7 linked regions of the Homo sapiens genome follow. The protein of the gene in region 1 purifies or fractionates together with the protein of each later gene. This does not show direct contact. Each region holds a gene or a part of one and is shown on either strand. Other genes may lie near its edges. The genes, in order: LRRFIP1, TFR2, SMC4, MTCH2, USP47, NCAPG and ARID2.

Region 1 (3,500 bases):
TGGACACACTCATTAGAACAAACGAGATACCAGTATGGAAAGGGATGTGGTCACAGAGGCAGTAGAGTCTCTGGCCCCACTCAGTAGCTGGGGAATCCCCCCAGCACGGCGTCCTAGGGCTGGGTGTCAGGCTGTTCAACAGATTTCTGAAGAATCACTCGAGGCGTGTGACCAGCCCTTGTGAAAGAGCCAGTGTGTGATGGCTGAGATAATTACATAGGGCCACAAGCCAGTGACTGCCAACCAGCCCTACTCTGGCTTATGAACCAGGAAAGGAGCAGTAGTGAGTTCAGATTTTTGACTCATAGGAAAATGGCAGGCAGATCTCACTGGGTAGGTCCTGGAAAGACAAAGGTCATTCCCTTTGAAGGACAGTCCAGAGAAAGAGGCCTGTAAAATACGCATGGCGATGCCCTCACGTGCCTCACACCCTTGCAGGTCCCCAAACATGAGGAGGGGAAGGCGATTCCAAAACAGAGAGGCAGAACCTTCAGGGCGCATACATGCAGAGCTAAAGGCAGCGGCAAGAGCTGCCAGTTCAGGTGCAGCAGAGGCTACCAGGGGGCTGGAGGGACCAGTGCTGGTCTAGCTCTGTACCTCCACACCAGGACAGCTGCTTCACGTGGGACCAGCGGGTCTCCGGTTGGTTCAGTGGCTCCCCAGCAGCATTTTTTCTTTTTTGAAACAGTGTCTCGCTCTGTCACCCAGGCTGGAGTGCAGTGGCACGATCTCGGCTCACTGCAGCCTCCACCTGCCAGGTTCAAGTGATTCTCCTGACTCAGCCTCCCAAGTAGCTGGGATTACAGGTGCGCACCACCACACCTGGCTAATTTTTATATTTTTAGTAGAGACGGGGTCTCACCATGTTGGCCAGGCTGGTCTCAAACTCCTGACCTCCGGTGATCCACCCACCTCGGCCTCCCAAAGTGTGGAATTACAGGCGTGAGCCACCACGCCTGGCCAAGTGGCTCCTTTTCGCATGAATTGAAAGCCAGAGTCTTATTTTTCCCCCTTTCAGGAAAGGTGGCAGATATGAAGATAGTGAATTAGTCATGATCGATGTCACCTCCTCTGTCTGGTGCCCTTTGATATTAAATTCAAATGATCTTGCAGGTACTTTCTAGGGGGCTGAAAAGGAAGTAACAGATACGCCACCCACTTCCAGATCCATGATCCGCTGCTGCCTAAGGAAGACAGTCACTGATTGCCCACCTTACTGTCAAGGAACAGGGCAACCACATCTCCTGGCTGGTGCAATGAAGTCACTGCACACTCTAAAAGCAGTGTGCACACGCTCCAAGAAAGCCAATGCCATAGTCAGTCTTTACTTCAATTAGTAGCATTTTACAGGGTGCAAATAATTGGGATGTTTCAAAAGTGTGGCATGTGAGGACGGCCTTATTAGTAGACATCAGATATTTTGAGAAGCAAATCAACTGAAGCATTTTTGTATACAACTACTACAAAAAGTGAAGAAAACCAAGAACCTTCTTCAAGTGTCTGGCACACGCCTATGGGAAATGAGAAACTGGTTTTAAGCCTGGGGGAAGGATGGTAAGTCTAAGGCATGCATCAGGGAGTATGTTAGTAACCTTTTCTACTGGGCAGTTACATTTTCAATCTTGGTTCAAACAATGCATTTGGGAAAATGGTGAGTGTACACCCATGCCGGCACTCCTGCCATTGTGAGTTCTTCTACACCCTGGAGCCTATTTACAGTAAGCATGCACTTTGAATTTCTTCTTTAGGATGTTGTTTTTTTTTTTAAGTTAAGTTGGGTTAATATCGTGAGACCACACGTCTGTGAATTGGTACCTTCATCTCTTTCAATCCCTGCATGTATTTGCCTTCTACATCCTGAATCTGGTCCTTTAACTCATTGAGTTCCTGGGGGAAATGGCAAAAAAGGCAGATGATGTCAAGGGAAAACAGGTGATTCCCTAAATCTTTTATACTTCAGGGTAGTTTCTATTTGGGTAGTCTGAGCACCCAATTTTCTTTTTTATTTTATTAAGCGTTAAGGGAAAATAAACTTCAATATTTAAAGATTAAAGTTCAGGTGTATCCCATATGATATTTTTACATGATTTTATACAATTTTAGTGTATCTCATATGATTTTACACAGTTTAAAAAACAGACAAAATAGAGCCTCGGAAAACGGTACAGGTTATTTCAACTCCTATTTAGTAATTCATTCAAGCACTAGGAGTTCCTACTCTGTGCAATGTACAGTAAGATGCTAGAGGCAAAAATCAGTAGCACTTTTTCCCTGCATTTATGGAGCTCCAAGTCTCTACTTTGCCAAATTCCTGGTGCCGGGGACAGCATCTGGCACCAGCCAGCCTCTCAGTAAGTACCTGAACAAATGAACGGCACGCGCAACCTAAGGGCAGAGAAACATCAGGACTGCCGCCAACTCTGCTGCTCTGCTGTAGAAACGGAAACAACAGGCCAGGCGCAGCGGCTCACGCCTGGAATCCCAGCACTTTGGGAGGCCGAGTGGGTGGATCACCTGAGGTCAGGAGTTCAAGACCAGCCTGGCCAACATGGCGAAACCCCGTCTCCACTAAAAATACAAAAGTTAGCCGGGCATGGTGGCGGGCGCCTGTAATCCCAGCTACTCAGGAGGCTGAGGCTGGAGAATCACTTGAACCTGGGAGGTGGAGGTTGCAGTGAGCCGAGATCGTGCCATTGAACTCCAGCATGGGTGACAAAAGCAAAACTCTTGTCTCCAAAAAAAAAAAAAAAAAAAAAAAAAGAAAGAAAGAAAAGAAAAGAAAAAGGAAAAAAAAAGGGAAGCAACAAGGAGCTGCAGGTGGCCCAGGGGTGGCACATGGGAAATGGCTCTTCTGGTTTTGTAAACTTATAAAACATAGGTGTTGGAAGCATCTTCAAGGTAACCCTGGCCAAACTCTGGTGGATGCTTAAATCCCTCTCCGTCCTCCCTGGCAAACGGCCATCCAGCTGCTCAGACATCCCCAGTGGAAGTTGCTTCCCTTTTAAACCTAGTTTAAAGCACTAGAAAATTCAGAATCTGAGTCAGTTCTGGCTCCTTTCAGCTGCTTCTGTCTTGGTTCTGCTCCCTGGAGGACACAGGTCTAGTCACCTCACCTGCCCTTCCAGTCTTCAGGTTTTCAGATGCACTGTCCCTAGTTACTTTAACAAATAGCACCGTGTTTCTCTTTCACACACAGAATACTACCAAATGCCTGGCACTGTCCTGGGTGCTGAGGATAGAGCAGAGAATAATACCTACACTACAGTGGGATAAAAAAAATCATTAAAATACAAAGATGAGGGCTACTAAAGGCACATTACAAAGAGAAAGGAAAGGGCAAGTTCTAGGCCGAAGGGGAACATACTTAGTGGGGAGGGGTTGTGTGAAAGTAGGTAAAGCCGTCTGGTGTCCAAACTTGTGGACTGAATGTCTATGCAGACCAAGCATACAGAGACGACCAAGTGCATCAACACAACGTGCCAAGTGCTCTCACTAAGGTA
Region 2 (3,500 bases), on another chromosome or scaffold:
GGTGGAGGTTGCAGTGAGCCAAGATTGCACCACTGCACTCCAGCCTGGAAGACAGAGCAAGACTCCATCTCAAAAAAAAAAAAAGGTCAGGGTCTCTCTGTCTCCCAGGCTGGAGTGCAGTGGTGTAGTCATGGCTCACTGCAGGCTTAAACAAGAGTCACCTTTTTCTAGTTCACCCACAATCACCCTGTGGCCTCGCTGCAGCCTTCCTCTCTCTGCTTCCTCCTCTTCTGGTCCCCAACACTCCCCTCACCTCAGCAGGCGGGAGGCAATGTCTGCACTGATGGGCTGGGCTGGGATGCTGGGAAGGCCTGATGATGCAACTGGAGGGAACTGGGTTTGATTGAAGGAAGGGAAGCCAGGTGTGTAGGGGTCTCCAGTTCCCAGGTGCACCTGCAGGGAAAGGGGTGCCCACGCAAAGCTGCGAGCTGGGCTTCCAGGAAAAACGAAAAACATGCCAGCCCTATTCTGAGCAAGAAGGTGTGGCCTCGGGACCTGGGAACAGCACGACCAGCCTCCCCAGACTCACATGTCCATACACTGCCTGCTGGCTGGACAGGCTTGGCTTGGGTGGGTCCTGGGAGAAGTCCGCTGGCTCTGGGTATATGAGCACTCCTTGAGCCCCGAAGTCCTGAGCATTGGTCACCTGGGGAGGAAGGTGACTAGAGGACTCCTCCCAGAAAAAAACCCGATTCATAAGGGCAGGAGAAACCAGGAAATGGCAAGGCCTTTGCTTGCAACTGTCCATCCCACGGAGAGGATGTGGGGGCACTACCTGGCCTGTGTCTTCCCAACCTCAGCAGCTCCTAGGCAGCCCTCAAACCCCACCGGGCTCCAGGGTACCCCATGTTTCTGTTCCCTTCCCCATCTGATTTCCCCCAACACCCAATTTGTTCCCAGCCAACATTTTCTTTTTTCCTTCTGATTCAATTCCCAGACCAGCCAACATTTTCCTTCCTTCCTTCCTCCCTCCCTCCCTCCCTTCTCTGTTTCTCTCTCTTTTTTTTTTTTTTCTTTTTGAGACAGAGTCTCTCTTGCCCAGGCTGGAGTGCAGTGGCGCGATCATAGCTCACTGCAGCCTGGCACTCCTGGGCTCAAGCGATCCTCCCACCGGAGCCTCCGGAGTAGCTGGGACCACATGCATGTGCCACCAGCCCAGCTAACTAAAAAAAAAAAAAAAAGAACCTTTTTTTTTTTTTTTTTTTTTAGTAGAGAGGGGGTTCTCACCGTGTTGCCTTGAATTCCTGGCCTCAAGCGATCCTCCTGTCTTGGCCTCCTAAAGTGCTGGGATTGCAGGTGAGAACCATCGTGCCCAGCTTATATTTTCTTACCATCCAGCCACATGGTTCTTTCCTGTCTCCCTCTCACAGCACCCTGAACGATTCTCACTGGCAGTCCGACCCTCCGGTTCCCGGGCTCAAGCCCTCCCTCTGTCCAGGGACACTTACCTTCTGGGCGAAGCTGATCACCCCCACGCGCACCAGCAGCAGGCGGCCCACTGGATCCACGCCCCTGGCCCGCAGGTCCTGCAGGTCTTCGGGCCGCCCGTAGTGGGCGTACACCAGCTCTCCCTGGGGACACGAGGACGGTGAGGCGCGCTCCCCGCGTCCCTCCTTCGAGACCCAGGAAAGGGCTCGTGCCGCGCCCCATCCTAGGAGCGGGCAGGGGGTGCTCACCGTGACGTTGCCGATGGCGCTGTAGGGGCAGTAGACGTCAGGGTCCTCCAGCGGCAGCTGCTCTCCGACCTTCCCGGCCTCATCGACCCAGTGCAGGGTGTTGGGGTGAGCCCTGGGGAGCGGGGCTGGTGAGCGCCCCGAGCCGCGTCCCCCTCCCCGCGCGCCCCCCGCCCGCGCGCGCACTCACGGATCCGGGAATTGCAGCCCCACGTAGTGCGTGTCGGTCCACACGTGGTCCAGCTTCTGGCGGGAGAGCGCCGCGCGAATGTCCTGAGTCAGAGCGGCCATCCCGGCCGAGCCTGCCACCCGTTCCCGAAGGCTGGTTTGCCTAAGCGGGGAGAGGTGGGGACTTTTCTGGGCGCCCGGAGGAGAGGGAGGGAAGAGGGAAGGATGCCAGAGACGTGGGGTCGCCAGGGGCAGGGGCGGCGAGGGGTTCCTGAGTTTAGGAAAAGAGCGCTCCCCGCGGACGCTTTTTTTTTTTTTTTTTTTTTTTTTTTTGAGACGGAGTGTCGCTCTGTCGCCCAGGCTGGAGTGCAGTGGACCAATCTCGGCTCTCTGCAACTTCCGCCTTCCTGGTTCAAGCCATTTTCCTGCCTCGGCCTCCCTCGTATCAGGGATTACAGGCACGTGCCATCACGCCCGGCTAATTTTTGTATTTTTAGTAGAGACGGGTTTCACCATGTTGACCAGGTTGGTCTCAAACTCCTGATCTCAGGTGATCTGCCCGCCTCGGCCTCCCAAAGTGCTGGCATTACAGGCGCGAGCCGCAGTGCAGGGCCCTCCGCGGACCCATTTTCTCCCATCACCACCAGGGCGGCGCCGGAGACTCTCAGGACCTCACTCTGCTTAAAACCTGACTTCCCATAGCTGGGGGTCCTGCCCATCATCCTGTAGGTTCTTCCCGGCTCAAGCCAAACTCTCTCCCCCAACCTCGTTCCTCCCGACGTCAACACACACACACACACACACACACACACACACACACACACACAGCACCCAAACACTTTCCTTCGAAAGAGCTAACTGGGCAGGCAGCAGACCCTCCTCATCTCCCCCATCCTCCACGTGGGCCTCATGGAGACACTTTACACCAAGGTACTCAGGGGAATCACCGGTTCCTGGGCTCAAGCCATCCTCCCGCCTCAGCCTCCTGAGCAGCTGGGACTACAGGTGTACGCCACCAACCGCTGATTTTTAAAAATTTTTTGTAGACGAGAAGTCTTGCTGTGTTTCCCAAGCTGGTCTTGAACTCCTGGCCTCAAGCGATCCTCCCAAAGTGCTGGGACTACAGGCATGAACCATGACGACCCGCCCCATATGTGTATTTAAAGCTACACATCAAAAGCGTGAGATAAGGTGCTTATGGGGAGGGGAGTGGGGAGGATCACTCAGGGATGAGGCAGGAAAATTCAATTCAAAACAGTTAAAGTAGCCAGTAAGGCCCTTTAGGGCCTGAGCTACATCCACCTCACCGGCCACATGGACCATCTTTCCCTTCCTCCAAGAGGCCACCATCTTCACATTTCAGACCCTTCGCAAATGGTGAATCTCAGCCTGAATGTTTTTCCACAGTCTCTTTGCCTGGCAAATTACTCATCTTGGCAGTTTAGACTCGTCAGTTCCTCAACGAAGCCTTCCCTGAACTGCAATCTAAATCAGGATCCTGGTTATAGTCTTTCTTTACACACTTTTCTTTTCTTTTTTCTTTCTTTCTTTCTTTTTTTTTTTGAGACGGAGTCTCGCTCTGTCGCCCAGGCTGGTGTGTAGTCGTGCAATCTCAGCTCACTGCAACCTCTGCCTCCTGGGTACAAGTGATTCTCCTGC
Region 3 (3,500 bases), on another chromosome or scaffold:
GCATCCCATATACTTCAGAAGCACAAATGTAATATAAATTTGACAATTTATAAATTATTTACTTCGTTGGGACAATATTACATTAGCTTCCTTTATTACTGAATTACGTACAGAGATGCTGTACAGAGAAAAAAATTATCCTTAGAAGGGTTAAAATGCAGTGTATTTTGATGAATCTTTGGATAAATGTAAAACTTTGATTATCCCAGGATGACGGTAAAAGATTAAGCAAAAGATAAACATAAGTACAATTTCCTGCAAATTGGTATCATCATCAAATTTAGTATTATATAGGGACATAACTTTTTATCCATTATTAACCAAACCAAGTCCCAGAATATGTAAGTCAATAAAACAGTTCAATTTGATTTTAAAAACACACAAAATCCTTTAATGCCACATTCTATAAATTCCAATCTTGTTTAGAAATATATCTGCAATTAATTTCCTCAACATTAATTTTTAAATAAGTTTAGGTTGAAGTATTGCAAATATACTGTGCCTGGTAACAAAAGATATTAAAAAAGGTTATCCTAGAATGATACTGATTTACCTTGTATACTATGAATGTCTAAAAGTAATAATTTTTAGAAACAATTGAAGAATAAAGACTAAAATGGAAACAGAGGCTAACATTTTATAAGTTTGTTATTAGGAACATCCAGTCACCCTAACAAAATTCCCTACTTATTTCAGTCATTTCTGCATCACAAAATAGTTTTGCTTTTATTATGCTTCGGTGATTCTGGATAGAACACAGGAAAAGAAGATACCCTCGAATCAAACAGGAACTTGACAAAGCCATGGTTTTACCCTAATTTTTTTTTTTTCCGAAAAATTCTGAATTTTGAGGACAGGGAAAAAAAGATAGGGGATTTTTCTTACCAAGCCATGCTGGTAGAATATACTTTTACTTAAAGAAAACAGGGTTTCTAATAAAAATCAGTTTGGCACAGGTACTTAATTTTTACATCTCTTTAAAAGGACTTGCTCTGTAACAGCTCTGATACTTAACAATGTAATATCAAAGTTTCGTTCTTTCAGTAGTAGTGGTTCCACCAAGTAAGTCATTTTCAACAAAACAAAAACCAACTTGAGTAAAGGTTAAGTTAACCATCCAAAGTGTTACAAAGATTAAATTAACTAGGTGCTTAGGTAAATCAAACACCAAGTGTACAGATTTTTTCATTTTTTGGTTATATATCAGAAGAGATAATAAGAACAAAAACAAAGGAAAAGGATAGATTAAAATATAATACATTTCATTTAAAATGTTACCTTAAAGGGAAATACAAACAATTGATAAAATAGTTGCTGTATCCCTGTCACACTAAAGCAGCACAGTAATATTGGTGTTTAATATATATTTCACTACGCCAATATTTACGTGCTGCTAGAGTGGAACAAGTATGTCAGTTCATCCAAACATAAAACGAACATCTGATGATGAAAACATAGTTTTGAATGAATTTCCTTAAATTTCTAGAGCAGCAAATAATGATTCGCATCTTGACTGTAGCATGTAAACCATGATGTGCTGCTACAGTACTTTAAGGCCTCAAAAATGTAGGATTCATCCAACCTAGCTTTATAGAAAAAAAAGTAACAAGAATAAGAGAATCTTTGAAGTCTTTAATAAACTTACCTGTAAAATTAAAAATCTATTATGGTCCAAGTCAATTCCATGGCTTCGAAGAAGATTTCCAACATCCTTAAATGTCTTTTTCTTTCCACTTATGTGATAGACAGAAGTATTATCTCTGCAGGCCGTTCTGGATACATAGAAATTACTGTTAGGAATGACTTCATAATCATCCCCTTCCTGTTTTGAGGAAAAACAAAACCAGAAAACAATTGTTGGTATTAAGTCATAGGCCTACTTCAAAATTCACTCATTTCATACTGAAACTAATTCTATGGATTAAAAACTTCAATTGAACATGCACACAAACTGCCAGTAGTTCTCATTAATAACCCAACTTAGCAAAGAATTGATACTTTTCCATGCTGTTTTGGTCCCTTTCTCAAAGATCACAAAAATCAAGAAGCCAAACCAACCAGCCAACGAAAAAACCCACCTCCAAACAAGCCTAAAAACGTTTATGATTGAGAAGACGTAGACAAGATTCCCACCATATCCAAAACCCACACAAATTATTAACATGTTGACAGATTAAAAAGCTGCAGCTTTTTAAAATGATGATTCAAAGAAAAAGGAAGGAAGGTAGTAACCGGGTGATACACTTTAGTTTTTTTGTGTGGGAGGGTAAAGAGTGTGCCGTTAATTTAAAGTAAAAAGAATCACAAAGAAATAACAACTAAATTCCCTTGATTTTCTTTTAAACAGATTTTTAAAAAAATCAATTGCAAATCTACTTTAACACTTTCCCTTAACCTTAAAAGTTCTGTCATACTGAAGCAAAGGCTTCTAAAATTTAGATAAATCAAATGTAATTAATATGCAATGGAATAAAATCTGATTTCCTGGCAATCTATTTTCCAACCCAACTTGTACAATAGAAAGCACAAAAGAAACCAAATTAAAATAGATGATTCTGTGTAATTAAAGCACTTTGTATTAAAAAAAGGAAAACGAATTCAAAAGACAAATCACCTCCCAATTTCATTATGTAATTAGTTTTCTATATTTTTAGGTTCCATCGAGTCATTTTTGAACAATCAATTTCCTACATTATTAAACAGAAGAGAAAAAGTCTCAACAGGTAAATAATCTAGACATTTTACCTCTAGTTGTCTCCATTTCTAGAAAACAAACATTAGCTTGTCCTTCCCCCATTTCTAAAGGACTTAATTACAGCAGTAGTCAAACTGAAGCAAAGCTCTTTCATATCACAGATACTCAGGGGCCACTAACATTAGAGTTAAAATGCACTGAAATAATGAAGATGGTAAAACCGGCTAACTGCTACATTTTCAAGTTTAGCTAATTTATTCTAAAGCAATCAAAATATAACTTTAAAAATGAACTGAATATTTATAGTAAAATAATGCCTATTTAGTACTCAGGACCCTAAAACTGCTCAATGCTTTTATTCCAAAAAGGATTACTATGAACTATTTATACTTCATTTCTTTAGCTAAAAAATAAGTATTTTAACAGGCACCACCACTCCCCCAAAATAAAATACGGTCAGAGATAATGAAACCAATGCTTTCCGCTGTAATTACATACAAATTTCTTAAAGCCAAAAATAAAATATGTAATGCATTTAAGTCCATTTTCCTTACTTGAACTTGCCAATAACAGTAAAAATCCCTTACCTTATCAATTATCTTTTGAAAATGAACTTCTACTGTACAACTCTGAATGTCCTTGTGTTCATCAGAATTATGTATTAATACTGAGAGTTTTTTAGATCTTATTTTTTGTGCTCGATAGCCAAACACAAAAAGCATAGAATCAATAACATTGGATTTGCCACTGCCATTTGGCCCGATAATACAGGAAAAGCGCTGCATTAAAAAAACAAAAACAAAAC
Region 4 (3,500 bases), on another chromosome or scaffold:
GTGTTAGCCAGGATGGTCTCGATCTCCTGACCTCATGATCCGCCCGCCTCGGCCTCCCAAACTGCTGGGATTACAGGCATGAGCCACCGTGCCTGGCCGGCTTTTGCATTTAAACAGTATCTTTATGGTCACTGAGTTTTTTCTTTTCTTTTTTTTTGAGACAGAGTCTTGCTCTGTTGCCCGGGCTGGAGTGCAGTGGTGCGATCTCAGCTTGCTGCAACCTCCACCTCCCAGGTTCAAGTGATTCTCCCGCCTCAGCCTCCTGAGTAGCTGGGATTACAGGCACACACCACCATGCCCAGTTAATTTTTTTTGTATTTTTAGTAGAGATGGGATTTCGCCATGTTGGCCAAGCTGGTTTTGAATGCCTGACCTCGTGATCTGCCCGCCTCAGCCTCCCAAAGTGCTGGGATTATAGGTGTGAGCCACCACACCCGGCCTAGTCACTGAGTTTTAAGACAGCCCTCACCCCTTCTCCAAGGGCATAAGATCCTATGGGACTGGATGGGCAAACTAAGGAAAATACTAATTGCATAGTAATACATGTATCCCTGCTTTTTTTTTTTTTTTGAGAGGGAGTCTCGCTGTCTCCCAGGCTGGAGTGCAGTGGCGCAGTCTTGGCTCACTGCAAGCTCCACCTCCCAGGTTCACGCCATGCTCTTGCCTCAGCCTCCCGAGTAGCTGGGACTACAGGCGCCTGCCACCATGCCCAGCTAATTTTTTTGTATTTTTCGTAGAGACGGGGTTTCACCGTGTTAGCCAGGGTGGTCTCAATCTCCTGACTTCGTGATCTGCCCGCCTCGGCCTCCCAAGGTGTTGGGATTACAGGTGTAAGCCACCACGCCCGGCCGTATCCCTGCTTTTAAGCAAACTAATTTCATGAAAATTTACAGAAAATAGAGCTAATTTATCTGGTTTCCAGACCTTTAGTAATGTTTGTTTTGGAATATATATATATATATATATATTTTTTTTTTTTTTTTTTTTTTTTCTTGAGATGGAGTCTCACTCCTGTGGCCCAGGCTAGAGTGCAATGGTGCAATCTTGGCTCATTACAACCTCTGCCTCCCGGGTTCAAGCCATTCTCCTGCCTCAGCCCCCCAAGTAGCTGGGATTACAGACATGCGCCACCATGCCTGGCTAATTTTTGTATTTTTAGTAGAGACGGGGTTTCTCCATGTTGGTCAGGCTGGTCTCCAACTCCCAACCTCAGGTGATCCGCCCGCCTCGGCCTCTCAAAGTGCTGGGATTACAGGCATGAGCCACTGCGCCCAGCCTTTGGAATATGTATTTTGGATGGCTGCATTTCCTGGATAATTGTGACTTCATTAATGACAATTAAGACAATGTGAAGACTTAAGTAATAAGAGAATAGTTCTGAAAGCCAGGCACAGAAACACCTATGGCAGCATATGGGGGTGGGAAATGGGTGATGAGGAACTTTTCAGAGTCAGAAAAATGTCAAAAGAGCCTTTCTGCATAGATACTATCCAACATACAAAGGGCCTGGTCGCTATTTTAATACTTTTTTCTAAAGACAAGGTCTTGCTCTATCACACAGGCTGGAGTATGGTGGCACAATCATAGCTCACTGCAGCCTCAACTTCCTGGGCTTAAGTCATCTTCTCACCGCAGCCTCTCGAGTACCTGGGACTACAGATATGTGCCACCACACACCTAGCTAATTTTTCTATTTTTTTTGTAGAGAGGAAGTCTCACTATGTTGCATAGGCTGGTCTCTAACTCCTGGGGTCAAGTGATCTTCCTGCCTTGGCCTCCCAAAGTGCTGGGATTACAGGCGTGAGCCACCACACCTGGCCTATTTTAACACTTTTATTCCTGAGGTTTTCAACACTATTAGAAGACTTTCAGTATTCTAAAGACGGAATGTGTGGGCAAAATGAGTTTTCTTGAAATGCATCTATTCTGAACAGCAAGCACTGATCCTCTCTCTTTTTAATGTTATACATGTAGTAAAGCCCAAATTAATTTGAAGGTTTAATTTCATTTGGGAACAGACACTGAACACACAGGCCTGATGATTCTGATTCCATAGTTGCAACACCACAGTTTGATCTGGGCAAACAGCACAGGATGTAATTCATCTCTTACCTCCTTGATAACGTGGTCAAAGGAAGATGAGACTTCTTTCTGTACATTTCCAGGTCCTAACTCCTGGAAATCAAAATCAAAGAAAATAGAGATCTTGATTTTTTTTTTTTTTTTTTTTTGAGACAGAGTCTCGCTCTGTCGCCCAGGCTGGAGTGCAGTGGCACAATCTCGGCTCACTGCAAGCTCCACCGCCTGGGTACAAGTGCTTCTCCTGCCTCAGCCTCCCAAGTAGCTAGGATTACAGGTGCTCGCCACCACGCCCTGCTAATTTTTGTATTTTTAGTAGAGACGGGGTTTCACCGTGTTAGCCAGGATGGTCTCGATTTCCTGACCTCGTGATCTCCACCTGCCTCGGCCTCCCAAAGTGCTGGGATTACAGGCATGAGCCACCATGGGCGGCCGATCTTGACGGTTTTTATTTCTTTTGAGATAGGGTCTCGCTCTGTCACTCACGCGGAGTGCAGTGATGTGATCATGGATCACTGCAGTCTTGACGTCCTGGACTCAAGTGATCCTCTCACCTCAACCTCCCATGTAGCTGAGATACAGAGGTATGTGCCACCAGGCCCCGCTAATCTTTGATTTTCTGTAGAGAAGGGGTCTATGTTGCCCAGGCTGGTCTCAAACTCTTAGATGCAAGTGATCCTCCCACCTTGGCCTCCGAAACTGCTAGGATTACAGGCATGAGCCACCATGCCCAGCCATCCTGATGGTTTCAAACAGAACTGTCCAAACTGGTGGCCACCCCATAGGACAACACTCACTGAGATGAATAGGAGACTGACTACTTGGCTTTTCTCCAAAAGAGGCCCCAAAAGCAGTAACAACTTGCAAGGGAAAGGCCCTCATGCTTAGAAATCAGCTCCAACATACCTCACCCTTGTCACTCTCCTGGTAATGCTATAGAAAAAAAGAAAAAGGATGATTAGGGTTATTACAGTGTCATGTGAAAGAAGACATAAAATGAAAACTCTACTGACAGAAAGTAAATTAGCTGAAGTTTTTTTTAAAGTTTTTGTTTTTTTTTTTAAGCTGCAAATCTTCAGTTAACTTCTACTCATTAATCAACTGGAAATATGGATCTCCAAGATAAACTTGTTGCTAAGTTTAACATATTGGTCAGTTGGAAGAAAAGCAAATGGTCATGAAAACTCTTCTTTGAAAAAAGAAAAGGGGACAGGTGTGGTTGCTCATGCCTGTAATCCCAGCACTTTAGGAGGCCGAGGTGGGCAGATCACCTGAGGTCAGGAGTTCAAGTCTAGCCTGGCCAACATGGTGAAACCCCATCTCTACTAAAAATACAAAAATTAGCGGAGCATTGGGGCGCACGCTTTTAATCCCAGCTCTTAGGGAGGCTGGGGCAGGAGAATCACTTGAACCCAGGAGGC
Region 5 (3,500 bases), on another chromosome or scaffold:
GAATATGAAAATATTTTTAGTATTTAATATTTTACATATTTTCACCTAGTACATTTACTTTTTTTATATATAAACTTAATACATTTAGAATTTATTTTTGTGTTTAGTATGAAGTATGGAAATAAATCTTTTTCAAAATGCTCATTGTGCTAGTACCACAGATTGACTAATTCACCCTTTCCCCAGAGATCCTTAGATATCCCATCTTAAAATGCAAAACAGACCTTCATCTGGATTCTCTACACAATTCGACTTCATTTGGTTTTTTTTAGACATAAAGCAATTCACTCTAGTAACTTCTAACTAATTCTAACTACTTAGGACAAAATTGGTCCAAGTAACAGAAAGTGAGGATCCACTTCTGAATGGCCAGGAGCCAAAGTAATTTTTCAAAGAATCAGGAGCCTGAACAACCAGAGTGTGCCACAAGGTGTGACAGAAACCAAAAAGAAAGGTTGCTGCACCAGTGTTTGGTACTACTTCCTAGGTTTTCTCTTACGCAACACAGGAAGAATGTATTGTTTATATATTATATATTTTATTAATATTATGATATACATATACAACATAAGATACATGTTTTGTTTAAAATGAACTTACCTTCTCTCGCAATTCGTCCACACTACTGCTTTCCAATACAACCTCCTGGAAGGGATCCAACTTCATCTCTGAAGGCTTCCACCGTCTTGACAAAACTGCAAGCTGTGACATGGACTTCATCTTCTCTACCCCTAAGAATATGCAAGATTAGGTCATCATTCTATTTCCTCTGAAGGTTCATAATTTGACTTTTCCCTTAGTGCCTTACTAAACAAAAAGATTTACTTCAAGTGTTACTCTTAAAAAGTGGGCACAAGAAAAAACCCAATTATCCCAAGGAGTTTTTGAGAATGAAATATTTACTCTCTTCTCTCCAGTCTCAGAAGATAATTCCTCTCTTCTTCAAACCAGTACTCCTAATTCCACTCCCTCCTGACTCCTGTTGAACACTGCATTACCAATTACTCTCTTCTCTGGATTTCCAATCTTTGTTTCTCTATTGGCTCCTATCCCTATCTAAAATCATAAACAAATCAACTTCACTTTATCCTCTTTTTTCACTAAAGCTATTATTAATCCTTCTCTTTCCATTTACTCCCCAATTTAGTGATTCTTCAAAATTGTCACTTTTCCATTATGTCACTTTTCAAGCATCAACTCAATTGTCACTTTTCAAGCATCAACTCAATTGTCACTTTTCTCTGGTGTACACAAGAAGAACTTCTACTGATTCAGTCCCTTAGTACCTATTATTTTAGAATGACAGGTTTGCAGTTCTGTTTCTTCCACAGACTGTGTGCACCAATAAGTGGTTCTTACTCATTTTTGTAGCACAAGGGATTAGCAGTGTCTGGCAAATTACAGGTCAATAAATACCTCTTGGATTTAATCACATGACATTTCTTACTCAACTATCTTGATGTGAAAATATACTGAAATAATACTGATGCAGGCACCCACCATCTAGTACCATTTTCAGATGAATCCATCTCTGCTAATACATACTCAATCCTTACAAGGGTGACTTCTTTGTCATTTATGATCTCTTCCTGACTTACCCAGGCACAGTGATTATTCCCTACGACCCCAGATACTCAAAGAAATCACAATCTGGAGCACTTGCCTACACACCATAGTAGATGGTATCCTAGTTGTTCCTTACCTCCCAACTTAACTTGTCAATTAATCAGAATTTCAACCATTTAAATTTATGGTTGAATTAGACCTGAAGCAGCCTGAAATACATGAGGTGTTAGTATTATTGAGCTCTCTAAAAACTAGGATAATCTTGTAACAAAATATCCAGAATTCATATTTTACTTTCTACAGAAGAAAAGGAAAATTAAAATTTTCCTAAGCAACAGCAAAAAAAGAATATAGAACTAGTTGTTTACCTTGATGTGATCTTCTAAAAGCCAACTTTCCTCCTATAAGCCTCCCTCCAAACACCAATACTTTAAATGTGCCAATGTTGATAACGAAAACTGGGAGGTGTGACAAGTATGTCTGCTACTTGGACCTCCTCAAGGTCACTGCTATGGGTTGAATTGTGCCCCCCACAAAAAGACATTTTGAAATCCTAATCCCTAGTACCTCAGAATGTGACCTTATTTGGAAATAGGGTCTTTCCAGTGATACTCAAAGTAAAATAAGGTCTTCAGGGTGGGCCCTAATACAATAGGACTAGTGGTTTATGAAAAAGGGGAAAACAATACAGACAGACAAGCCCACAGAAAGAACACCACATGAAGATGAAGGCAGAGACTGGGGTGATGTATCTACAAGCCAAGGTTGCCAATGATGGCCAAAAACCACAGAAGCTAGGAGAGAGTATGGAACAGATTCTCCCCCACAGCACTCAGAAGGAACCAACCCTGTTGACAGCCTGATCTCAGATTGTGAGACAATACACTTCTATTCTTTAAGCCACCTGGCTTAGGACACAAATAGTCATTGTTCTTGAGTCTCTGATAAATTATCAGTACCATGTCTTCAATACAAAATAAGCCATAATAGTAAAAAAGAAACTAAAGAACAAACGTGGCTAAGAAAATATTAGCAGAGTTTTCTTAAAATGTATTAAAAACCTAACTTTGTAATTTCCTCATAAGGGGGAATTAATATTCTCAACATTCAAAAAAAGAATACTTAAAAGGCAAATGGGAACCAGAGAAAGATAGCAGAAGGCTGAAAGACACTGATTATTCTTTCAAAAACAACTTAAGCAGTTACATTAGGACACAGGGGAAGAAAATAAAACTCCCAAGGATAAGACGTAGGTAGGAATCACATCAATCCATAATAAGGATATCGTTATGCTTAATATAACACAAAACACTATAATGTATATTAGATTCCTCGTAACTCATTATTTGATTAAAAACTATAGGCTTCTATTAGTTCTAGAGTATTTCTAACTGATACTTCCCCCCAAAAATATTGAAAATACCATCAAGAACTTCAAGGAAAACCTCCCAGTTGCTGGAAATATTAATATCTTCTTCATAAATATGATAATCCAAAAAGACAGTGCCAGGATTCTTCCATGTTTTTTTCCTTAGACGAAACCTACAAATGTGATAAGACATTTAAAACGACTATAATTTGAAACTCTCAATTTAAAGATTGACACTAATCTGACACCAAAGAAAAATGAACTATGTTCAAATACAAAAGTCAAATAATGAGTTGTTAAAATCTGGGGAAATAAAGAAATGTTTCCAGTAATTCAAATTTAGAATTCTGTATAGGAAATCCAAACAAAATTTTAATACTCTTGTTTAGTCCTATTAAACTAATCTGTCATACTAAAATTCTGAATAGCACAGGAAATTTTAATTCTCCTAGTTTTAGAAAATCATACCAGTCCATTTCAACTGACCACATAGTCTTTCTTCAAATCGCTGATGACATTAATTTTACTTTACCTGTCAATACTGAGCTCTAAACCACATTGCTCC
Region 6 (3,500 bases), on another chromosome or scaffold:
AAACACAAAAATTAGTGTGGTGGTGCACACCTGTGGTCCCAGCTACTTGGGAGGCCGAGGCACGAGAATGGCTTGAACACGGGAGGTGGAGGTTGCAGTGAGCTGAGATCATGCCACTGCACTCCAGCCTGGGCAACAGAGGGAGACGTTGTCTCAAAAAAAAAAAAAAAAAAGTCTAATCTTCATCTTGCCTAATTATCACCTCAAAAAAAAAAAAACCTGACAACCTCGTTTATCATCTATGAGCTAGCCCAGCTATTTTCTAAGTTTCAGATTCATATATATAACTGCTAAAAGACATTTCCTCTTGATGTTCCACAGTTTCCTCAAACTCAACATGTCCAAAAGGGAACTCATCATTACACAAATCTCTCCTCTTCCTTGTTCTCTATCTTCATACTGTCATCACCATCTACCCAGTTGTCTAAACCAAAAGACTTAAGATACATTCCTGACTCCCTTTTCTCCGTTACTAATTTCTAAATACCTCTCAAGTTCATCACTACTTTCCAAATCCACTGTCATTATCTTGTTCAGACTACCATCATCTGTAAGTCTCCCAACCCTACTGTAAGTCTCCCAACTATTATGCCTGTCTAAGCTTTTACTACTCTCCAATCCATTTCCTAAACAACAGTGATCTGAGACATAAGACTTACCTAACCACTTAAAATACTAGTGGTTCACCACAATCCTTAGAATACAAAATTTTTAATATTGCTTACGCAAAGCCTTACATGACCTAGCCCTTAATTTTTCCCCAGATTTTTCTCCTGCTTCTCCCCATCAATTCTCTAGTCACATGGACCTGAAGTTTTAAAACATAATAGGCATTCTTTAACTTCTGGACCATCACAGATGTTGCTCCATCTGTCTACAACATTCCTTCCATAATTCATTGAGGAGAGACAGCACAGAGTGAGTTAAAAGCACAAGTCTAGAGCCACTTCTTGGGTTTAAATCCTGCCTCCACCATTTACTATCTGTGTGATTTTGGGCAAGTTACTTGCCCTTTGTAAAATGAAGATAATAATAGTACCAACCTCATAGGCCTATAGGAAGAAAAGAATGAATTCACATTTGTGAAGTAATTAATGCTGTGACTACCACAGAAAAAGTATCCTCTGACTGTTAGATTATATTGTTATTTTTATTCTAATCTCAGGATAAAACATGTCTTCCTCTGGGGAAGCCAACAATACTCTACCAGCACTAGAAACCTCTCCATAAAACCTCTATACTTCCCTGACCATAGCATTTATTATGCTCTGTTGTAGTTGCATTTTAACAGATTTGTAGCCCTCGAACAGGACAAATAGACACATAAATGGTCAAAGCAAGTCAAGTTAAACAGACGATATTAACCATGATAGACTACTTTTGCTAATTTTATAATTTTGACCTAAAGTTTGTCATTTTTCAGATGATATTTTCAGTTTTTGCTTTAAATTTGCTTTCCAAATTTAATAGCCTATAATGGCCCACAGACTTCGTCAAATAAAAGAAGCCACCAGCTATCAAAATAAAATTCAGGCATACACTCTGGGAAGGTGGGTGTTGGAGTTGGGATGTCTATGGCTAAAGAGATCAGAAACATAACTCATGAAACTCTCCTATATAAAAGAGTCTCCTATTTAGCATTCTTTTTATGAGAATAATCAGCACATCCCAAAAGTACAACAATAAATGATGTTCATTACAAAAGGCAAGATCCCAAAAGAAATTAAAGTTAATATCAAATATTAATTGATACCTATCTTATGTTTACATATTTATCATTTGTTGTAAGACAGAATGGTATCGATACCATTAACAAAAAATTTCTTTCAGAAGGAAAGACATACTCCATTTAAGAGAGTACTTTAACAAACTAATTTTTTAAAAAACGAACTACTGAAAAGCAAGCTTTAAATGTTACTAGACATATTTCAGTATTTCATTAAAAATAACAAAGCTGCGTAGCTTTTTCTAAAAACACAAAAGTAATTTAGCTTTAAAAAAATGCACGTTACCATAGAAATTATTTTGCTAGCAATAAAAAAGAAAGGTCATTGATCCTCCACAAATAAGAGGAAAATGGATGTATTTTCCTTTTTTAAACCATTCAAGACAAAAAACAGAAAACTCAGATGTGAACCACTGGAAAGCTAGCTTCCCTGGTAAGAAAGACTTCGGATTCTAGAGATTAGCATGACAAGGAAGCAAATAAAGTCCTACCTCCAATAATTAAAGTTAATTAAGGCCTTTCAAAGTCCAAAAATAGAAACAGGGAAAAACTTTTTTCATTTTAATTCATGTCACTATTACAAAGTGCTCAAAGTAAATATATTTTGGCAATTCTAGAAGTTAGAGAAAATAAGATTTAGTTGAGATGATTAATAACACCTGAGATTTAGTATGAAAAAAGTTACCTGTACCTTCTCTATGTGGACTTCTTTAATTTCAAGTTGCTCTGTCTCTTTCAAAAGGTTTATTCTGGCATCTTCTAATGCTTTTATTTCTTCTTTTAATTCTGATGCCCGATTAAAATCCTGTAAGGTAATGCAATTTTCCAAAGCTTCTTTGGCTTCGATAAGCTTAACTTTTATTTCAGCCATCTAAGGGAAGATATAAATTGTTTCAACACTGAACAAAAACTGTTAATATGAATATCTGTAGCAACTCAGGAGTATTATTTAATATCTCAACTGCCCAGAATTTAATGAGTCAGGCATATGCAAACTTGTAGTTTTCCTGACACAGAGATCTGCATATCTCTGAGACTGACATATGTGGTAACATTTTAAATATTCTTATAGTTTAACAATTAAACAATAATTTGATTATGTGAGAAACATTTCAGAACTGCACAGCAAGAGGAAAGAATAGACTTGCCCAGCTACATTACACTCAAGCACTTCTTTCATTTAAAAGAGACTTACCTTGAGTTCTTTCTTTCTTACATCAGCTGGATCGTTATTAACACCAACAGTAACAATGGGCGCCCGAATCTCTGAGATAATTTCTGTAACCTGTAAGTTCAGAGTACATGCTTTAATATATGTTTGATATATCAGCAAATAGTATCAAAATTCTATATAAAACTCCAAGTAGTATCCACCATATATTGAATAATGGAGCAAAAACATACTGGTAGAAATAGCACACATTCTGTTTGCTAGACAATTTTAGAAAAAAACAAAACAAAACAATATATCTGACTACAAAATGAAATTATTTGAATGGAAGGGAAATAGGCACACAGACAGTGAAAGTAAATTATCCCTCATATAATGTTTGAAAAACAGAAATATGAATTATGGTGCTTAAGATGAGACACTTAAATTCTCTGCCTAAAATCCTCAACCCTTCTCTTGTTCAGCTCTGTAGGAGTTAAACACAGAAAAATGGAATATCCTTTTATTCTTCCTTTGGGTAGACAATGCATAAATAATAATAGCATAAGGAAGGACTTTCCTTTCAGAACCACTTGTATATTGGAATTGGCTGATCAGGAAAAG
Region 7 (3,500 bases), on another chromosome or scaffold:
GGCTTGGTTTCACTTAATGAAGACTAAGAAGCTTTAATTATACCTACAATATAATTTTAATTTCATGTCATCCCTTAAAAGCAACCATTTTGTTCCTCTCCAGCTGTTTTCTGACACCATTTTCTAAATTTTCTAGAAACATGAATGAAGATTGAAAAAGAATTTTGCTGTGCAGCCTTCCATATTTAGAAAGGTACTATGGAGAGGCTGGGCGCGGTGGCTCACGCCTGTAATCCCAGCACTTTGGGAGGCCAAGGCGGGTGGATCACAAGGTCAAGAGATCGAGACCGTCCTGGCCAACATGGTGAAACCCCGTCTCTACTAAAAATACAAAAATTAGCTGGGCGTGGTGGCACACGCCTGTTGTCCCAGCTACTTGGGAGGCTGAGGCAGGAGAATCACTTGAACCCGGGAGGTGGAGGTTGCAGTGAGCTAAGATTGCGCCATTACACTCCAGCCTGGCAATAGAGTGAGACTCCTTCTCAAAAAAAAAAAAAAAAAAAAAAAAAGGTACTATGCAGAAAAGGCAAACAGTAATAGTCAGCCTCAGTTTATCCTTCTAGTTGTTTCCCAGATGCTTCCCTCTCTTCCTGCAATACTATATTAACATTTACGGGGTGTGGAGCTATGTATTGTTTCTATTTTAGTTTTTAAACTTGCAAAATTCATGATAAAGAGTCATCGCTGTGACCTTGGAGACTGACAATCTTCTATATGTTTTTTTGCAGATTGTTAAAGAGACATGAAAATAACTTATCAGTGCTAGCCATTAGTAACATGGAAGCTTCCTCCACCCTTGCCAAATGCCTTTATGAACTTAATTTTACAGTTCAGAGTAAGGAACAAGAAAAAGACTCAGAAATGCTGCAGTGAAAAATAATTCCACTTACACAGTGGGGGACTCAAAGTCAGCCACATTTCACATACTGTTACTGAAGAAAGCACCAAGTCTTAATGGAACAAAGACCATAGAATGAATTATTTTATCTCCTCCCATGATGCTGAGAGGAAGCTTCGTATTCTGATCTCTGAGTGAATCCCTTTGTTCTCTGTTTAAAAAAATCTAAAAAGAAAAAGGAAAAAAAAAAAAGAACTGCTGTGGGATTGTCAACCAGCTTATCTGCAGGATGTTTCAGATCTGATAAATCCTGATGGAAACTGGTATGATCAGAATTCAGTACCATCCACATTGGAATATACATGGAATATTGTAAAACCTACATGAGCAGATGAAATAGAAGCATTAAATATTTTTATCTATATCCAAAAAGGAGCACATTTTTATATTTACAAAACCGTTTAAGCTGGTTTGAATAATTTAAAAAAGTTTCAGCACACCTATACCCCCGATCTCAGAGGGGGCCACCAATATCTAGCTATGGATCGTGTGTTTTGTTTAGAAATCAGTAGCTTGGTTTTCTTACTTGAGCCAATATATTTTCACTTATTTATTATCATAAAAATTTACCAGTCTGAATAGATCTTGTAAATATTTGTGAATAGAATGAATACCTTTCATGCCACTGCAGCCACTGGAAATACATTCTGTGGTGTCCTAGAAGCATTATTGGTAGGTTCTAAAGTTTTCTAGACTTTCCTGTCAATTGTAAGTAATTGTGATATATTCTATGCAGTGGATGAATGTTCTTTAAATTTGTGTAAATACTTCTGCAAAGGTACTGATGCTGTAAAGTCAAAACAGTTTTGTGGAACTGTGATTTTTTTTTCTTTTTTCTTTTTTTTTTTCTTTTTTTTTTTGTATTATACACCTTGTAGAACTCATTTTGCTGGCTGAAAGAGTATGGAATAATATATCTCATGTCATTTTTTAGAAGAAAAACTATTTGAAGGTATTTTTTGGTTTTCCTTAACATGTATCCACTGTAAACGTTTGTCGTGTACAAGCTCAGAGCTTGGACAGAATTTTTTGTATTTGTAAATTGGTTTAAATACATGGAATTTTATACAGGTTTTCTCCTGTGTTATATATGCATTATGTGCAGGTATGATATTTTCTTCACTACTTTTTCTATCTTAATATAGTGTGGAATTTTATTGTATTATTCTTCCATTCTTAATACTGTACCACATTCCTGCTCAGAAACTGCTCACTTCCTTAAATTGTCTTTTTTCCCCCAGCGTGAAATGTATCCATTTATAACTGCCTATTGCCTGTTCTATTAGCATCCAAAAATGTGGAAGGCCTCCCAACCACCATTTCTGCTGTGTCCTTAGGATGTGCAGTAAAAAATATAGACCTAACAGTTTATGTTATAGAATGGCTTTATTTACTTTGGTGACTGTTTATAGTTTTTAAATAAAAGACTGAACATTTTCTTGAGTCCTTCATTTCTGAGTATGCTTAAGACATCTTAAAAATATAGAGAGAATTCTAAATTCAGCTGAAGGCAAGGTATAACGGTCACCTACCTATTTGATTATATGTTGATTGATAACATATTAAATAGAGAACAAATAAGAGAGGTCCTTTACATGACAAATTTGCATGAAATAAGCAGATTAACCAAGTATTTATTTTTCATCTTGTTATAATGCAGAGCAAATGTAGAGAACAGCAAATGATTGATGCAGTTAAAGCTCAATATGCCTTTTTTTACTGGATACTGTACATTTGGCTAAAAGCTTTTATTGTTTGATGTTGTGTTTCTTGACTGTTTATTCAGAATCACAGTGTATCCAAATCTTCAGCTTGAATTTGGAGGCAGATTCTTAGAGTGAAAAAGCCTCAGTTTCCATATTAAAAATGTTTTAAATATTTTGATTGAATTAGTACCAATGTAAAATCTAGTTTCTTCCTGAAGGAGGATCCCTGGCGCTGTCCTGCCATGTCTCAAAGGAATGTTTGAGAAACTTCATCTAATATTAGTTATAAGGTTGTGGAATTTATGCTTGGCCCACCTTCCAAGACTGGCACTGCCCAACAGACACCGCTGAAATCATGTGGGTATCCCTAGGATGGCCTTCAGAGCCCTCAAACTTACAAGCACCTGGTAGTTGACATCATATGGGGAATTTTCTATTCACCGTACTTATCCAAAAATCTCTTTTAAAAAGTAAATTTGTGCAACAACGTTTATTTGAAAGATAATGTCTTCTCAAAATCAGAAACTGCAGTGGTAATTAAATTAATAGAAAAGAGAACAAACTGCAGGTTTAGAAAAATGGTTTTCATATTCACCATTCTTCCACCTCATTGAATTGCATGCTGTAGTTCTAGCTTTTCTGCTATAATATGTAAATATGACTGTAGCCTTTTAAGCTTCAGTCTCAGCAGAGAATTTCCTAAATGCGTTTGACCTAATGAAACTGATCATGGCTTCCCACTTAGGTTTTTCTTCTTATAGCTTTATAGAACTATATAATAATATGGACTTGCTGTGTAATGGAATTAAAGTGCTTTTGCACAATAAGTTCTGCAAAACCCTCTCATTCATGAAAAGGTGCTCCTTGCTAGACAGAAACTTGCTGATTTACAGTAT

Evidence for each region.
Region 2: the proteins of LRRFIP1 (region 1) and TFR2 purify together in Homo sapiens (affinity purification with mass spectrometry; 2 studies listed by BioGRID and IntAct, with this or other methods). This does not show direct contact.
Region 3: the proteins of LRRFIP1 (region 1) and SMC4 fractionate together in Homo sapiens (co-fractionation; one large-scale study listed by BioGRID). This does not show direct contact.
Region 4: the proteins of LRRFIP1 (region 1) and MTCH2 purify together in Homo sapiens (co-immunoprecipitation; one large-scale study listed by IntAct). This does not show direct contact.
Region 5: the proteins of LRRFIP1 (region 1) and USP47 fractionate together in Homo sapiens (co-fractionation; one large-scale study listed by BioGRID). This does not show direct contact.
Region 6: the proteins of LRRFIP1 (region 1) and NCAPG fractionate together in Homo sapiens (co-fractionation; one large-scale study listed by BioGRID). This does not show direct contact.
Region 7: the proteins of LRRFIP1 (region 1) and ARID2 fractionate together in Homo sapiens (co-fractionation; one large-scale study listed by BioGRID). This does not show direct contact.

The regions. Positions count from the first base shown.
Region 1 is NC_000002.12:237,749,587-237,753,086, reverse strand, and holds part of LRRFIP1 (leucine-rich repeat flightless-interacting protein 1), read right to left. Parts: intron 1,888-3,500; coding exon 1,816-1,887; intron 1-1,815.
Region 2 is NC_000007.14:100,631,553-100,635,052, forward strand, and holds part of TFR2 (transferrin receptor protein 2), read right to left. Parts: intron 2,099-3,500; exon of another isoform or gene 2,005-2,098; coding exon 1,864-2,004; intron 1,789-1,863; coding exon 1,677-1,788; intron 1,572-1,676; coding exon 1,449-1,571; exon of another isoform or gene 1,371-1,448; intron 647-1,370; coding exon 530-646; intron 394-529; coding exon 254-393; intron 1-253. UniProt on the Homo sapiens protein: Mediates cellular uptake of transferrin-bound iron in a non-iron dependent manner. May be involved in iron metabolism, hepatocyte function and erythrocyte differentiation.
Region 3 is NC_000003.12:160,402,650-160,406,149, reverse strand, and holds part of SMC4 (structural maintenance of chromosomes protein 4), read right to left. Parts: intron 3,475-3,500; coding exon 3,283-3,474; intron 1,823-3,282; coding exon 1,646-1,822; intron 1,563-1,645; exon of another isoform or gene 1,465-1,562; intron 1,406-1,464; exon of another isoform or gene 1,325-1,405; intron 1-1,324. UniProt on the Homo sapiens protein: Central component of the condensin complex, a complex required for conversion of interphase chromatin into mitotic-like condense chromosomes.
Region 4 is NC_000011.10:47,632,560-47,636,059, forward strand, and holds part of MTCH2 (mitochondrial carrier homolog 2), read right to left. Parts: intron 3,013-3,500; coding exon 2,986-3,012; intron 2,176-2,985; coding exon 2,113-2,175; intron 1-2,112. UniProt on the Homo sapiens protein: Protein insertase that mediates insertion of transmembrane proteins into the mitochondrial outer membrane. Catalyzes insertion of proteins with alpha-helical transmembrane regions, such as signal-anchored, tail-anchored and multi-pass membrane proteins.
Region 5 is NC_000011.10:11,949,972-11,953,471, reverse strand, and holds part of USP47 (ubiquitin carboxyl-terminal hydrolase 47), read right to left. Parts: coding exon 3,468-3,500; intron 3,109-3,467; coding exon 2,990-3,108; intron 732-2,989; coding exon 601-731; intron 1-600. UniProt on the Homo sapiens protein: Ubiquitin-specific protease that specifically deubiquitinates monoubiquitinated DNA polymerase beta (POLB), stabilizing POLB thereby playing a role in base-excision repair (BER). Acts as a regulator of cell growth and genome integrity.
Region 6 is NC_000004.12:17,824,479-17,827,978, reverse strand, and holds part of NCAPG (condensin complex subunit 3), read right to left. Parts: intron 3,012-3,500; coding exon 2,922-3,011; intron 2,598-2,921; coding exon 2,418-2,597; coding exon of another isoform or gene 2,412-2,417; intron 1-2,411. UniProt on the Homo sapiens protein: Regulatory subunit of the condensin complex, a complex required for conversion of interphase chromatin into mitotic-like condense chromosomes.
Region 7 is NC_000012.12:45,904,206-45,907,705, forward strand, and holds part of ARID2 (AT-rich interactive domain-containing protein 2), read left to right. Parts: intron 1-728; coding exon 729-873; 3' UTR 874-3,500. UniProt on the Homo sapiens protein: Involved in transcriptional activation and repression of select genes by chromatin remodeling (alteration of DNA-nucleosome topology). Required for the stability of the SWI/SNF chromatin remodeling complex SWI/SNF-B (PBAF).